Linked DNA regions of Homo sapiens: region 2 is linked to region 1. Evidence: fine-mapped expression QTL. Tissue or cell type: tibial nerve. Region 1 holds a variant in brackets; the other region holds the start of a gene. All regions are shown on one strand. Distances are between the middles of the regions.

Region 1 (8,271 bases):
GAAACTTGCCTGATATCACACAGTACATGTTATAGCTGAACTTGGAATTCTCACGCTCCCATTGATCCTATCTACACAATTCCGAGGCTTTTTCATATCTCTAAATGAATCAGACAGATGACTGTATTGTGAGAAATTATAAATTTTGTTGATTTTTTTCAGGGAAGCAGCTCCATGCCTTATTGATTTTTTCTATTATTTTTCTGTTTTCAGTTTTATTGATTTCACTCTTATTTTTGTTGTTTTCTTTTTTCTACTTGCTTTGGATTTATAGTCTGATTTTTTCTATACTCTTGAAGTGGTAGCTGAGCTTATTGATCTGAGACTTTTAATTCTCCTAATATAATTATTTAATTGTATGAATTTCCCTCTTGGTAATACTTTCGCAGTGTCCCACACATTTTGATATGTTGAATTGTCATTTTTCTTCAATATAATTTTTTTTTGAGACACAGTCTTACTCTGATGCCCCGGCTGACGTGCAGTGGCATGATCTCGGATCACTGCAAACTCTGCCTCCCGGGTTCAAGGGATTCTCCTGCCTCAGCCTCACAAGTAGCTGGGATTACAGGCATGGGCCACTATGCCCGGCTAATTTTTTTTTTTTTTTAATTTTTAGTAGCGGGTTTCACCATGTCAGTTAGGCTGGTCTCAAACTTCTGACCTCAGGTGATCCACCTGCCTCGGCCTCCCAAAGTGCTGGGATTATAGGCATGGGCCACTGTGACCGGCAATATATTTTTTAAAATATCCCTGACACTTCCTTTTTGACCCAAAGATTATTTAGAAATGTGCTGTTTAGTTTTCTACTGTTTGGAGATTTTCATTACATATATATGCTACCATTATATATATATATTATATATATACTACCATTATATATATATATTATATATATACTACCATTATATATACATATTATATATATAAAATGAATAATATATTTATTTATTTCCAGTTTTACTTCATTTTATGTGGAAAATACACTCTGTATGCTTGAAATTATTTTTAAAAGTTTGGGTTTCTTTCATTGTTCAGTACAATTTAGGGCTATGTTCTGTGAGCACTTGAAAAAAAAAATGTATTCTCCTCTTGTTGAGTAGCATGTTCTAGAAGTGTTTTTCAGATTAGGTTGATTGATTGTGTTATAAGTTCTTATATATCATTGCTAACTTTCTGTATAATTGTTTTTTTTTATTGTTAAGAGAAGTGAGTTAAAGTCTGTCCCTGAAGTTGCAGATTTTATATTCTTACTGTCATACAGAATGTACTGTGGGAATGTACTGTGGGAATGTACCAAAATTCATTTAACCCATCTGATGGTGATGGACATTTAGATATTTCCAGTTTTAAGTTTTATTCTACAAATCATGTTGCAGTAAGCATTCTAATTGATGGGTTCTGGTAATTATATATTTACAGTTTTGTGTGAAATGGACCTGATGGTTATGCGTATCTTTATCATTACAAGATATGCAAAAAATAATTAGTTAAATTTACATACCTGCCAGTAGTATGACAGATATACTACAGAGCAGGTAGAACAATTTTAAAAGAGTAATAAAAAAGAGAAAACAATCTTTCCAATACTCATAGTCTCACCAATTTTTTGCTGTTGATTTTTGGAAGTTCTTTATATGTTTTAGATTTTAATCTTTTATCAGATATATGGTTTGCAAATATTATTTCCCATTCTGTAAGTTGCTCTTTTACTCTGTTGATTGTTTTCTTTGCTGTGCAAAAGCTTTTCAGTTTGATATAGTCCCATTTGCCTATTTTTGCTATTTTTCCTTGTGTTTTTAATGTCCTAACTAAGAAATCATAGCCAAGACCAATGTTATGAAATGTTTCTATTTTGTTTTCTTCTAGGAGTTTTGTGGTTTTAGTTCTTTGGTTTAAGTCTTTGATCCACTTTGAATCTATTTTTGTATGTGGTGTAAGATAAGAGTCCAATTTCATCCTTTTGCATATGGATATTCAGTTTTCCCAAATTCATTTGTTGACAAGAATGTCTTTCCCCATTGTGTTTTCTTGCCACCCTTGTTGAACATCCATTAACCGTATGTGCATGGGTTTATTTCTGAGCTCTCTATTCCATTGGTCTATGTGTCTTAATACTGTGCTGTTTTAATTTATTACACTTATTTATACATACTGTTTTAATTGTTGTCGTTTTATAATATGTTTTTAAATAATGAGGTGTGAGGCCTTCAACTTTGTTCTTTCTTAAGATTGTTTTGGTTATTTATAGTCCTTTGTGGTTCCACATGAATATTAGCACTGCTTTTTTATTTCTATAAAAATTTTCATTGGGAATTAAATAAGGATTGCACTAAGTTCATAGTTACCTCATGCAGTACGAGAATTTTAACACTAGCAAGTCTTCTAAAATGTGAACATAAAATATCTTTCCATTTATTTGCATCTTCTTTAAAAAAAAGTTTTGTAGTTTTCAGTTTATAAGTGTTTGCCTTCTTGGTTAAATTTATTCCAAAGTGTTATATTCTTTTTAATATTATTACTGTAAAAAAGATTGTTTTCTTAATTTCCATTTCACATTGTTCAAGATAGTGTATGGAAGCACAGGTGATTTTTGTGTGTTGTGAAGTTAGTAGATGCAAATTTTTTATCAAAACTGTATCTAGCCAACTTAACAATTTTGAAATAAGTAATATACATTACATTGACAAGTATAAAATATAAATACATGTTCCAAGATATTTAAGATAAATACATCTTAAAGTATTGAGTGAGAAATTAGCAGATTAAGTTGTTTAGCACAATAAAATGTATTTAAATTAAAACACATAAAATCACTGAATAATAACATCTATTTTTAAGGAAACTAAAATATAACAAACGTTATGCCAAAATCACTGGGAGATAAACTGGAGGAGCAGGACATGGAAAATTGGAGTAGACATGGAGAATGCAGGGGGAAAAAGGAGATATTGACCTGTCTAAGAAAGATAGTATGCCATGAAGAATAAGTACGTGGAAAACAGTTCTCTGAACCTTAGCTTCCTTTGGGGAATCATTAGTTTTATAGCCAATACTTAAGACCATGACACTAAAGGAGAACACCTAGGAAGAGAATGTAGAAAACAAATCAAAGTTAAACAAAGTGTATTACATAAATGAAATATGTAGTGTCTCTGAAGTAAATAAAAATGATATAGTGTTTCAAGATATTGGAAATACTGAGTTGAAATCAATATTCCTGAGAGAGTGTGAGATGAGCAAAGAAGGAGGACTATTTAGTTTGTTAACATGGAAAAGCATTGGTGAAGTTGACAATAGCAATTTCAGATAACAACTGGGATAAGAGAAAGACAAACTAGGAGAAGAGTGATGTCAGGTTGAGGAAGTAAAGAGAATACTGATGACTTTTAGCTTTAGGGTAGCAAATATTGAAATAGGGCGATACATGGAGGATAATAATATTTTAGTGGGTACTGCTGTTTGGCCAGCTTGTAAAATGCAACATAGTCAAGAAGGATTCACTAAGTGAATAAATGCAATTTGACGACTATAGTTAACTAAATTTCAGGGAAGTACATGTTTTCTTGTCAGTTGGACACAGAAAAATAACAGTAAAAGTTGAGTTTATATTCCTTATATAATTGGCTTAGTTTATGAGACATTAATATGAAAATACTATGTTCTATAGTTTCTCACTTGTTTTTTAATTTAGATAAATCTTAAATATTAGAAATATATACCTAATTTTCCTTATTAGATTCACAATTAGAGATAAAATGAAACAAGTAGATTTTGATCCCCTTTCATACAGGTCTTAGAAAAAAATTATACTGTTTTTTATTTTTGGTTAAGATCTCTACCTCTCTTTCCAGGCTCTGTGCTTTTTAAAAAGCCCCTTTAAAGAAAACGAAATATCCAATTATTCTGTTGTGAAATAATTATGTGACCTATTCAGCCTAATAATATTTTAGCTAGATGCTTAGAGACTTAAAACTCATTTTAGACTTTATGGCATGCACTCTAGATTCTCCTTCAGGAAAATGTCATTGAAGAAACAGGTTTTTGGTAGTTATGAGAAATATATAGCACATGTTTTCTAGACAAAAGTAATAACTGGCTATTAATCTGAAATATTAATCTGAAAATTGTGATCATTGAAAAGAAGACTCACATCATCTCCTTCTACTTAGATTTGTCTTTT[C/T]ATAAAAAATGGACTCATTAGGTTTTGTCGAATAAAATATGGTTTAATTATTAGACTGGTCCTTCACATGAGTGAGAAGGTAAAAAATTTATAGAAATGTTGGTGGGCCTTCCAATGATGTTGAGATTCCCAAGGTACTTATTGAGAATGCACCAGTTAACAAACTCCATTTTGTGATCAATACAGTGCTTCCAGAAAGATTTTATGAACTCCTGCATAAGAGGCAAATAGAAGTAATTCTTTCCTTCTCTTCTCACTCCTGGCAAGTGTTCATTCACATGCTGTAGGATTTGGTATCCTTAGAACCTGAAAGGATCCTTATGACACAGTCTCGTATCTGTTTGGTTTTCACCCCATAGACAATAGGGTTCATAGTGGGTGGTAGGAGCAGATAAATATTGGCTACAATGATGTGGCAAGAAGGGGGGATTATGTGTTCCCCAAAGCGGTGGGAAAAGAAGGAGAAGAAAGCTGGAGTATAGGAGAAAACAATGGCACAAATGTGGGCAGTGCAGGTATTAAAGGCCTTCTGCCGAGCATCTGCTGAGGAGAGGCTGACCACTGCCCGGAGAATCATGGTATAGGAGTTGGTGATACACAGTATGTCAAAGCCCCAAATCAGGAGGGCAACCATCAGACCATAGATGGCATTGACCTTGACATTACCACAGGACAATTTGGCTACAGACATGTGGTCACAGTAGGTATGGGGAAGTATATTGCCTCTGCAGTAGGGCAGGAGCTTGGTGAGGAAAGTAAAGGGAATAATGAGTAATACCCCTCTCAGGAAGGTGGCAGTCCCAACCTTTGCAATTACAGGATTGGTGAGGATAGTTGAATAGCGTAAGGGGTAGCAGATGGCCACATAGCGATCCAGGGCCATAAGCATAAGCACCCCAGACTCCATCCCTGTGAAGGTGTGGGTGAAGAACATCTGGACAAGGCATTCATCAAATCCAATGTCCTTGAGATGAAACCAGAAGATGCAGAGGGCTTTAGGGATTGTACTAGAGCACATAACAAGGTCAGTAAAGGAAAGCATGGCCAAGAAGTAGTACATGGGTTTGTGCAGGGCATCCTCATAGTGAATGAGGTAGAGGAGTCCACAATTCCCTACCATAGCCACAACATACATAGAGCAGAATGGGAAGGAAATCCAGAGTTGTGTGTCTTCCAGTCCTGGGACTCCATTCAGAATAAATGAAGCTGGTATTAGGTCTGTTTTATTCAGTGTTAGCATGATAAGTCTGGTAGGTTATGAAATAGCTCAAAATTTGTCTGGGCTTTCCTAGAGTTAAAAAAAAAAACAAGAGAAAATATAGGTTATTTTTACTGTCTCCCTCTCCCCCAACTTTTAAAAATTCCATAATGCATTTTAATGGTCCAACAACCAAATTTCTGAGTGCCAAGAAATAATTTTGTTTGTCTGTTTAGTTTTATTGATTGATTAATTAATTGATTCAGTAAAAAATTCTTATTGAGCAGTCTAAGTTTTCAACACAGATGCCAATCAAACATCAATTATTTTATAAAAAGACATATTCCCAATCTCATAGATTTATAATCAAGTATAATTCTGACTTTTCAAATGGTATTTTTATTAGAATATCTTACTTAACTATAACTATACTCATCTCAATATAGATATAATTTTAAAGAAGAGTCATTTGATTACCTCACTGATGATCTGAGAGATGAGATGTTGACTTTTTAATTTTTATTCTTAATGACTGACTGATATTTATTCTTGGGTACTCAGGCACTGTTCAAAGAATTTTGAAATTTTAATTAAATTATTACTCAATGAAGCTTGGGGTCTCAAAAATTAGTAAATTTATTGGGTGTCTATACTCAATAATAATTTAATTGTATATTTTAAAATAACTAAAATAATATAATTGGGTTGTCTGTAACACAAAGGATAAATGTTTGAGATGATGGATACCCCTATTTACTTTACTGGGATTTTTTTTTTTTTTTTTTTTTTTTTTTGAGGCAGAGTCTTGCTTTGTTGCCCAGGCTGGAGTGCAGTGGCGCAATCTTGGCTGCAACCTCCACCTCCCGGATTCAAGCAATTCTCCTGTCTTAGCCTCCCGAGTAGCTGCGACTACAGGCACATGCCACCACGCCCAGCTAATTTTTGTATTTTTAGCAGAGATGGGGTTTCACTATATTGGTCAGGTTGGTCTCCAACTCCTGACCTCAGGTAATCCACCCACATCAGGCTCCCAAAGTGCTGGGATTACAGGCATGAGCCACTGTGCCCGGCCCTTTAAAAGGGATTATTACACATTGTATGCTTCTATCAAAATATCTCATACACCCATAAATATATACACCTACTATGTGCCCACAAAAATTTAAAATTAAAAAAGTCAATGAAGTTTTGATTCAATTTTTTCACTTTTCAAGATATCTTTCTTGTTCTTTATGTATCTAGTCAACGCAAACTAGAAGATATCCAAATGCATACATACAGAAAATATATAAAGTACTTCAACAACATCAGTAAGAAAAAGTTGCAGGAAGAAACATACACTTCAAAAGAGAAATAAAATTGCCAATGAACAGGTAAATAGGCACAAACTTTTATATTAATCAGAAAAATAAGTAAAAATTGTATCTCTCATGACAAAGCACCTTTTTTTGGTATGTAGTGACATACCAAACAGGACAGCTAAAATGAAAAGAACTAAAAATACCAAGCATTGGCAAAGATGTAGAACAACTGGAACTCTCATTTACTGCTGGTAGACATGTAAATTAGAACAACTCTTTATTAGATATCTCATAATGATAAACATACACATGACCACCATTGCCATTTCCAACAAAACTATGTATATATATTTACTAGAATACATCAATTAGAATGCTTATTGAAACATGATTTGTAGTATAGCCTAAAACTGGAAAAAACCTAAATGTTCATCAACATCAAATGGGTAAATAAATTTTGGTACATTCCCACAATGAAATACCACGTAACAATAAGAATAAACAATCTATGACTATATGCATAATATAGACGAATCTCACAATATGTGTTAATTTTTTTTAGAAAGACTTAAAATAGATGTAACATCTTGTGATCTTTAAATGAAATACAAAAACGGATCAAATTATTCTGTGCTATTAGAAATAGAAAAATCTTTTTAAAAAGTGAGAGAGAGTGATAACTGAAAGGCAGTATGTGGTAGAAGGGTCCTGTTAGTTGCTGGTCATATTCCCTTACTTGATTTGGTTGTGAGATATACAAGATTCAGGTTGTAAAAATCAATCAACATGTAATTGGATTAATTGTAAAATTGCATATGTATGTTAGAATTTATAATAACAAAAATTAAATTGCCAAGAGGATTAAAGGACGTAATATGTTAAAACATGCTACCACATTTTAAGTGCTCAATACCCATATTTGTATTTTCTACTCAGGCTGGCAGCCATTTTGGCAATGCTTACAAAAATTAACACCATAGGAATCATGAGTGCCACCAAATGAACTCTCTTTTGTGCCCCATCAGAGGAGGTATTCATCCTAACCTCCATTAATAAAATACACTGTTTTAAGATTAGCATCTGATAGGAAGTACAGTCACATGTTCTGCCTTATTGGGTAAGATGAAGAGGACAGATCAGATTTATCAAAAGGCAACTTGTTTTGAAAATAGTAGAAAAACACAGGTTAAACTTGTTAATAGGCATGCTCCTCAAAGATATGTACTCAAGTCATTACAAAATGTCAGAGTTATACTGGGTGTCATAGGAGCACCTGTGTGTCTAACCTAGCCTCAGGAGATGCTCCTAGAGAAGAGGACAGATGCTTCCAGACCTGGAGCATGATTAGAATTCTGACAGGTCAAAGTGGTAGGAACAGCATTTTCTTCTGTTGCTGTTTGCTGTTTCCTACTCATATCGCACTGACATTCTCAGCTTTGTGATAGGCAAACCTCTATCTCCTTGGTGCTCCCTTTGCCCACTCCCCTCAAATGTAGCTAATCCCTATACATTCTTCAAGCAGAACCATCATCAGGAGGTCTCAAATGTCCTTTGGACATGATAGCGACCCATCCTTTAAATTATTTTAA
Region 2 (8,271 bases), 52 kb before region 1:
CAGAATGTGCAGGTTTGTCACATAGGTATACGTGTGCCATGGTGGTTTGCTGTACCTATTGACCCATCCTTTAAGTTCCCTCCCCTCAACCCCCAACCCCCAACAGGCCTTGGTGTGTGTTGTTTCCCTCTCTATGTCCATGTGTTCTCATTGTTCAATTCCCACTTATGAGTGAGAACATGCAGTGTTTGATTTTCTGTTCCTGCCTTAACAGTTTTTGATTTAAATGCTATTTTAGCCAATATACATATAGCTACTTCTGAACTCTTTTGCCTTATATTTGCCCAAAATATCTTTTTCCATTCCTTTGCTTTCAACCTGTGTGTGTGTCTTTAGAGGTGAAGTGATGCCCTCACAGGCAGCAAATAGTTGGGTCTTCTATTTTTAATTCATTCAGCAAATCTATGTCTTCTGATTGAAGAATTTAATCATTTTGCTTTCAAGGTAATTATTGATAAGTAAGGACTTACTACAGCCATTTTGTTGTTTTCTTGTTGTTTTTTACATTCTTTCTTCCCTTCTTTTTCTCTTGTTGTCTTCTTTTGTGATAGATAATTTTCTCTAATAGTGTGCTTTCGTTCTTTACTTTCTATATTTTGTGCATCTACTATAGGTTTTTGCTTTGTGGTTACCTCAAGTCTTACATAAAACATTCTATATTTATAAAAGGCTATTTTAGGCTGATAACAACTTCAATTGCATAAAGAAGTTCCATACTTCTACTCAACTCTCCCTGATATTTTATGTTTCTGATGTCACATTTACTTCTTTTTATATTGTATATCCCTTAACAAACTATTGTAGCTGTCTATTTTTTAAATTAATTTTGTCTTTTAACATTCATATTAATGATATAGGTGATTTATATACCACCATAACAGTATTATTCAGAGTTTCACTATGTACTTACTTTTGCCAGTGACTTTTATTCTTTCATACGTTTTCATGTCACTAATCAGCATCCTGTTTTTTCAGCTTTAGCATTTCTTGTAAGGCAGGTCTGGTAGTAATACACTCTCTTAGCTTTTGAATTTCATTTTTATATTAAATCTTACATATCAAGAATAAAACAGGTGGCCAAAGTTTAAATTATATTTATATATCATATTTTATAAATATTTTAATATATTTTGTGTTTAGCCACTTTTGCCAATAGTTTTTTCAAAAATTATTTTCTCAACTTTCTGTATTACAATAAAAAAATTTTTATCTCCAAGTAGAAAGCTTTTATCATTCATCTTCTTAAACCTTTTCATTGTCTCTCTTGTTCTTACCATAAACCCAAAAATGACTCTATGAAATTACCTGACATCATAGGCATAGGGCTCTAGGTTTAGTATGAAGCAAAACAACAATAACAAAACAACAAAAAGGTAACATATTAGGTTAAAAAAAAAGATTGTGTACTATAAACTCAGATAGAACTGGCCCCTGATTTGAGCCCACTTAATCTTGTTTTCAGTCCCTTCATGTGTGGCACATTCATTCCTCAAAACCTCCATGCCGGCCATTTCCTCTTCCTTAAACAGTTCTTACCTCCCATCCCCCTTCCACAATGTTAACACCAGCTTATCTTCTGTACCACCTTGAGCATTTGTTCCTTCTGAAAGTCTTTTCTGGTATTTGTAATTTGTGACATTACATCTCATACTTATAACACATTCCTTTGCGTTTTTGCTTCATTTGACTTTTCCCCTACCTTATTTATTTATCTTTCCATCATAATTCCATTTTAAAATGTTTTGGGATTTTTGAGGGCCTCTTAATACAACCTTGTACTTTCCTCCTCAGTTCAGAGCTGAGACACACAGGAGACAAGGAGTTGACAGAGAATGTCAACAATTTTATGATATACATCTGGGAAAATGAGGCTTTAGATTTTTCAGGCAAAATACCTTGTTCTGCCTTGCCTCTGATTTAGACTAGCTTGCTCATCCAGTCCCTAGCATAGACACATACAAGTCTCTTTCGGAAAGCTTGGCCACTGACTTTGCTAATGTGGACAGACCAGAATGCGTGGCCTATTCAGGCAGGGAGATTGACTTCTGTGAAGCGTCAAGGCTCAGCATATAGCTCACCCATAGCTCACTGATATCTGATGCTTCTCCCACTCAGAGGAATGAGTTATGACAAGAAGAATGTTGTTCTAAATGAAGTCCTTATACTTGAAGTAATAAGTGTAGAATAATTAATTATACCGTTTTCCCAAATCTCTCTTCCTTTCCTTAAACTTACTGCTATTTGTTCTTTCTCATAATACAGTATCTTCTTGTACTAAATTCAGATTGTGATAGCCTCTCCTGCATGACTACTGGGTAAATAACAAAAGGAAGGCAGAAATAAAGATGTTCTTTGAAATCAATGAGAACAAAGACACAATGTGCCAGAATCTCTGGGACACATTTAAATTTCTTGTCTTTAATTAGCCCACAGAATAGTGAAACTATCCTTGGGCAATGGTAATCATTTTTCAGCTTTTTTATAGAACTGCTTTGAAAATAGCTTTACTTTTTTTTTTTTTTTGAAAGACAATGTAAGATACAATAATTTTCTCTGAGTTCCTCTTCAAAGATTTAGCCGCTAACTTCCTGGTCTTTTGTTCTCAAACTCAACTTTCCTTTTCCTTAGTTACTGTAAAACAGCCTACCGCTTCCCATCAGCTCTAATCAATAACTCACATCTGTTCCCGTAGTTACCTGGACTCATTGTTCCCCGGAAACTGCACATCTCACATGCCTCACCACTGTACCCCGTGTTCCCCTTCCCTTCCATATTTAGAAAGATATTTGCAAGTAGCCAATCTGGTCAGCTCAGCCCATGGGGGAGTGACACAGCCCATGGGGGACCCCAGCCCATGGGGGAGTGACACAGAAGTAGAAACTGTCAGAGATAAAAGCTCCCTGCTCTCCTTCCTTCCCTGTGCTCTTGTGATCTTGATTGATGCGAGTGGCACCCTTCTACAGAAGTAAATTGCCTTGCTAAGAGAACTTTTGCCTAAGTGTTGGTTTCACTTTGCGGCACTGAGCATTTATTCCTAGAGCATTTTTACACCCAACAACTCTGGGGGCTCATCTGGGATCCCCACTCTCCTTCAGAAAGGGATCTTCAGTCATCCTACCCAGGGGAGACGCATTCCAATGCCCCGTTGCGGTAGTCTCAGGGAGGGGAGATCGGGACCCACCCATTGTGATGAATAAACTCGGACTCTCAGCAACGCGAGGAGGAGAGGCTTGCAATACCGCGGTGACCAGGTAAACTCTGTGCACAGATCAAGGTAGGAAACGTCACAGGGGCGACAAAGTACTTCCTTGGTGGTTGGGGGCCGTGGGTCGGGGCATTCTGGAGGTTGAAAGTGCGTGAATGGTAGCAAGCGCTCCTGCTGCGCAGAATGAATGAGTCCAATCTGTGGTTCTGTGGTCACCTCATATGGGGGTCCCATCAGGGGTTTATGCTGACCCGCCATCAAGGCTAAGAGGAACCTGAAATATTCCCACGAGGGAAGCGGCCAGAGTGGACAAAGCGAAAGGATGCAAAGAGCCTCCAGCAGGTGGGGCTAAAGGATAGGCGAATTGAGCCTCAGTTACGATTCCAGTGAAGGATAGGCAAGAGGTCCCCTAACACAAGGGGTTGAGCCACAAGGAATCCCTCGCCAAATAGGCGAGAAATCCCTAATATGATGGGGTTGAGCCACAGCAATGCCCCGTTAGGCAAGAAATTCCTAATATGAGAGATTGCGCCTAGCCAAGACCCAATATGGGAAATATTACAAGCAAAAATGGTAAGAATAGTAACAAAGATATATACCACCTGATAGTCCCCTAAGTCTCATGAAAAAGGATATGAATAGTAACAAAGATATACCACCTGATAGTCCCCTAAGTCTCATGCTAAAATGTTGGGAAGATAATGAAAGAACTAAACATAAGAAAAAGCAACAAATGATAAAATATTGCTTTTCTATTTGGACTCAAAGACCTAACCTCAATCCGTCAATCTTCTGGCCAAAGTTTGGGTCAACTGAGGATATACTATGTCAACTTTCAGTTTAACATGTAAATAATAAAAGCCCAGTTTCTCAAGAAGAACTGGACTATGCTCTTTTTTGGAGGCAAAGACCTGTCCTCCCTTTCCCTTATGCACCTGCCCCTACTGTGGAGACAGTGAAGGAGGGTTCTCAGAGGATCCTAGCAAAGAAAACAGCACATAGGATTCCCTGGACCATCCTTTACCTAATGCCCCTAGTCCCCCATCTAATACCCCCAACCCTTCCCCTCAGGCCCAGCCTAAGTCCTCCTCTGTGAAAGGAATCCAAGCTCCTCATTCGCCAGGTGGCTTTTGACAGGCTAGCGACATCAAGGATCTGCCTCAACATGTTGTCGTTGTCGTGCAGCCTCTAGTGCGCCCCCACAGCAGAAAAAGCCCATGCTCTGCCGCAGCCTATGCCTAAGCAGACTACATTATGGGACATATGCCTTACTTTTGCCAGGGTCAAGTAATACAGGCTTCAGATGCGGCTCCAAGCAGCTAGGCATCCCCGCGGCTAAGTTTCCTGAACAAGTAGTAGATAATCTTTCAGCTGATATATCCGCTAGCATTTATTATGGGTCAGGCCAGTATTAAAAGTGAAAATATCCACCAGAAAAGACTTTGATTATTTAAAGTCACTTATATTAAAATGTACCACCAGAAAAGTATTACATGTGTATAAGTACGAGTTTAAAAGTATAGTTTAACATTAATGACTGATAATTCGCTTAATCTAGCAAGTTTCTTAATGAGATATCCAAAGCTAAAAAGAAAGCACACGTGTTTAGATTTAACTGATTACAAACGTTCGGCCAAACTTAGAAGAAACCCTCTTCAGGAATGATTAAGGGAAAAAGAACGCAACAGGTGTTCAGTAATTAATAAAGAAGTTCCTAGAGAAATTTATAAGCTGTCTGCACTTAGTCAAGCTTTAAATTACCTGCAGGACCAGGAAAGAACCATCTGTACTAATTCTAAATATGCCTTTACAGTGGCTAATACATTTAGCAAATTTCAGACTGGATTAATAGTAAAAGTCAAAGCCTTGTTCATGAGGAGTTAATCACCCAAGTATCTATTGTCCATGTCCCCAAGCACCAGAAAAGCCTGTCTTTTAAAATAACCTAGCAAATCAGATAAGCCGAACAGGCTGCTGTTTCTCCTGTAGGCACTAAAGGGAACTCAGAAAAACATTACCCATTAAAGACCCCAAGCGATGTATAACACAGTCAAAGTTTATATGTGTTTAGGAATTTATACCCTTAGCCAAACAAGTCTAGAGACTTGGTTGCCATAGATGAAATGTCTTCTATCTTCCTATTACCCTAGTAAGTCCAAACTACCTCCCAAAACAATCTACTGCCAACATTCCTACATACTTGGTTTATCTTCCACTTTCTCTTCCCTCAGAACTCAAAATTTTCCGGTACAGGTGCCACCCCTAAAGTTCCCAGTATATTGACACCAGCCTGAGGAGCTGGCCTAGTGCTTCAAACCACTGAAACTGCAGTCCAAACAGCAAGAAAAGATGGACCCATCATACCCGAGTCAAGAAAGCACCACCATCCCCAAAGTCATGGACCATTATTCAAGGGAAAAAACCCCTCAAACTAAAGTTAAGGAAAGTTTAACTCTCTTTTATCTATTCTATTACCCTTTCTTCTTTCCTCATTCTATTGCTGACCTTATTATCAATGTAACTAAGTCAGACTCATCCCAAATCATTACCTTTGAGGCTTGCCTTGTTATGCCTTGTGAAGAGGACGAACAATGGCAAAGGTATGTCTCTCCTTTAGAAAAACACCTCTGCCCCTTCAGAGAAACCACTGACCTCACACCTTGCTCATGGTGGGGGTACCAAGGCACCTTAAGTTAGGAGATACGTTCTCAATGAGCAGATGTCATCCTGACTGCCAATGAACACGGCGAGACCTCCCCAGAAGGCTGTACCAACCTAAAATCTTACCTCCTCCTTACCAAATGAACCACCCCCTCTAATTGCCAACTTTACCATTGTAACCCAGTAACTATCTCTATTAATGCTGCTACCTCTACCAACCATACGCTTCCTTTAGAAGGCTTTTACGGCTTAGGGGCAGAGGCCAATGGATACGACCCTGTAGGCCTCTTTAAAATACGCTTTATTGACCCTCCTTCACCTTCTAAACTTTCTACCCTGCCCAACAACAATGCCAAAGTAAATATTGTAGAAGTGAAGGATCTAAGACAAACTCTAGCAATTGAAACAAGGTATCAAGATATAAATGCTTAGTTGGGATGGATTCAATATTCTGTCCGCACTTTGAATAAAAGCAATTGTTATTCTTGTGTGCACAGCAGACCAGAGGCCCAGATTGTCTCCTTTCCGCTAGGATAGTCCCTCAGTCGACCAGACATGGGCTGTATAGTAGCTGTTTTCCAAGATTCCACAGCCTAAGGCAACAAATCATGCCAAGCTCTCTCTCTGCTATATCCTGAAGTCCAACACCCTGGAGGTCAGCCCCCGAGGGCCATTCAGCTTCCACCTCCTGACGTCAATTTCACCTCATGTCTCTCACAACATGGGGAGAACTTGGCATTCCTTGGAAGCTTAACACGTTGCAGCAAGCTTAGGCCCTTCCAAGAGCTTACCCATCAGTCTGCCCTTAGTCATCCTTCAGAGGATAGATGGTGGTGTTGCAGTACACCCTTAACGGACACTCTGCCAAGTAATGGGAGCGGCACTTGTGCTTTTGTCCAGTTGGCTATCCCTTTCACTGTAGAATTTCATCAACCAGAAAAAGAAAAACCACAACACTGAAAAATAAGAGAAGCCCCTTATAAGTCTTTTAACTCTCAAGTTTACATAGATGCCATTAGTGTCCCACGAGGAGTGCCTGACAGGTTCAAAGCCCGAGACCAAATAGCTGCAGAATTTGAATCCATATTTCCACAAGTAACTATTAATAAAAATGTAGCTTAGATAAATTACATCCATTATAATCAGCAGCAGTTTATTAATTACACCAGGGATGCCATCAAAGGAATAGCTGACCAATTAAAGCCTACTAACCAAAGAGCTTAAGAAAACAGAATAGCACTAGACATGTTATTAGCCAAAAAGGTGAGGTTTGTGTTATGATTAAAACCCAATGTTTTACCTTAATCCCAAACAACACTGCCCCCGATAGGAGCATAAAAAAGGCCTTACAAAGACTTACCACTTTATCCAATAAACTAGCTAAAAATTCTAGTCACTGACCCTATTTCAGGATGGCTAAGAAAGTAGTTCAGTAAACGGAAAAGAATCATAGCCTTAATTCTTATTTCTCTTGCAATTGTAATAAGTGTACTCTTTCTTGTTAGGTGTTATGTCATACCACGCATCCATAGGCTAATACAAAGGACTGTACAAACAGCACTTACTAAAGCCTCCCTTAGTTCTCCTCCACCTTATTCAAGTAAGCTTTTCCTTTTAGAAGATCAAATCGAATGGCAAAGCCAAGACATGTTAAAAACGTTTGAAGAGAAAGAATCATAAGAAAATTAAAAGGGGGGAATTGTAAGATACAATGAATTTCTCTGAGTTCCTCTTCAAAGATTTAGCCTGCTAACTTCCTTGTCTTTTGTTCTCAAACTCAACTTTCCTGTTCCCCCTTGTCCCTAGTTACTGTAAAACAGCCTACCTGCTTCCCATCAGCTCTAATCAATAACTCACGTCTGTTCCCTTAGTTATCTGCACCCACTGTTCCCCCGAAACTGCACATCTCACAGGCCTCACCACTGTACCTCAAGTCCCCCTTCCCTTCCATATTTAGAAAGATATCTGCAAGTAACAAATCAGGTTAGCTCAGACTGTGCGGTCTGACCCCGGCCCATGGGGGAGTGACACAGAAGTAGAAACTACCATTAGAGAGAGAACTTCGCTGCTCTCCTTTGTTCCCTGTGCTCTTGTGATCTTGATTGATGTGAGTGGCACCCTTCTGCAGAAGTAAATTGCCTTGCTAAGATAACTTTTGCCTGAGTGCGGGTTTCACTTTGTGGCACCGAGCATTTATTCCCAGAATATTTTTATACCCAACAACAAGCTATATCTATAGTTTTTTTTAATTTAAGGGAAAGCACATTTGTCATTAATTTGAAAGAGACAGAACTCAGGGAAAGAGTGAGATAAGATATTAGTTATATTTTTGGCTTAATTTTGCCAGTTTAGTAAAACACGAAACATAACTGTTAGTAGAGATTTGTGAGCAGAAGCAGTTCCTG

The links. PIP is the estimated chance that this variant, and not a neighbour inherited with it, causes the effect.
Region 2: it holds the start of OR52N2, and the variant in region 1 is fine-mapped to the expression of OR52N2 in tibial nerve (GTEx, PIP 0.94).

Annotation. Positions count from the first base shown.
Region 1 is chr11:5,751,893-5,760,163 of GRCh38, reverse strand. OR52N4 (olfactory receptor family 52 subfamily N member 4) reads right to left here and starts at 5,921. Exons shown (of 2, transcript NM_001005175.5): 1 at 5,859-5,921; 2 at 4,206-5,471. The coding sequence starts at 5,423. The coding sequence ends at 4,458. The variant C/T (reference allele first, on the strand shown) is at 4,184.
Region 2 is chr11:5,803,902-5,812,172 of GRCh38, reverse strand. OR52N2 (olfactory receptor family 52 subfamily N member 2) reads right to left here and starts at 3,249. Exons shown (of 2, transcript NM_001005174.3): 1 at 3,119-3,249.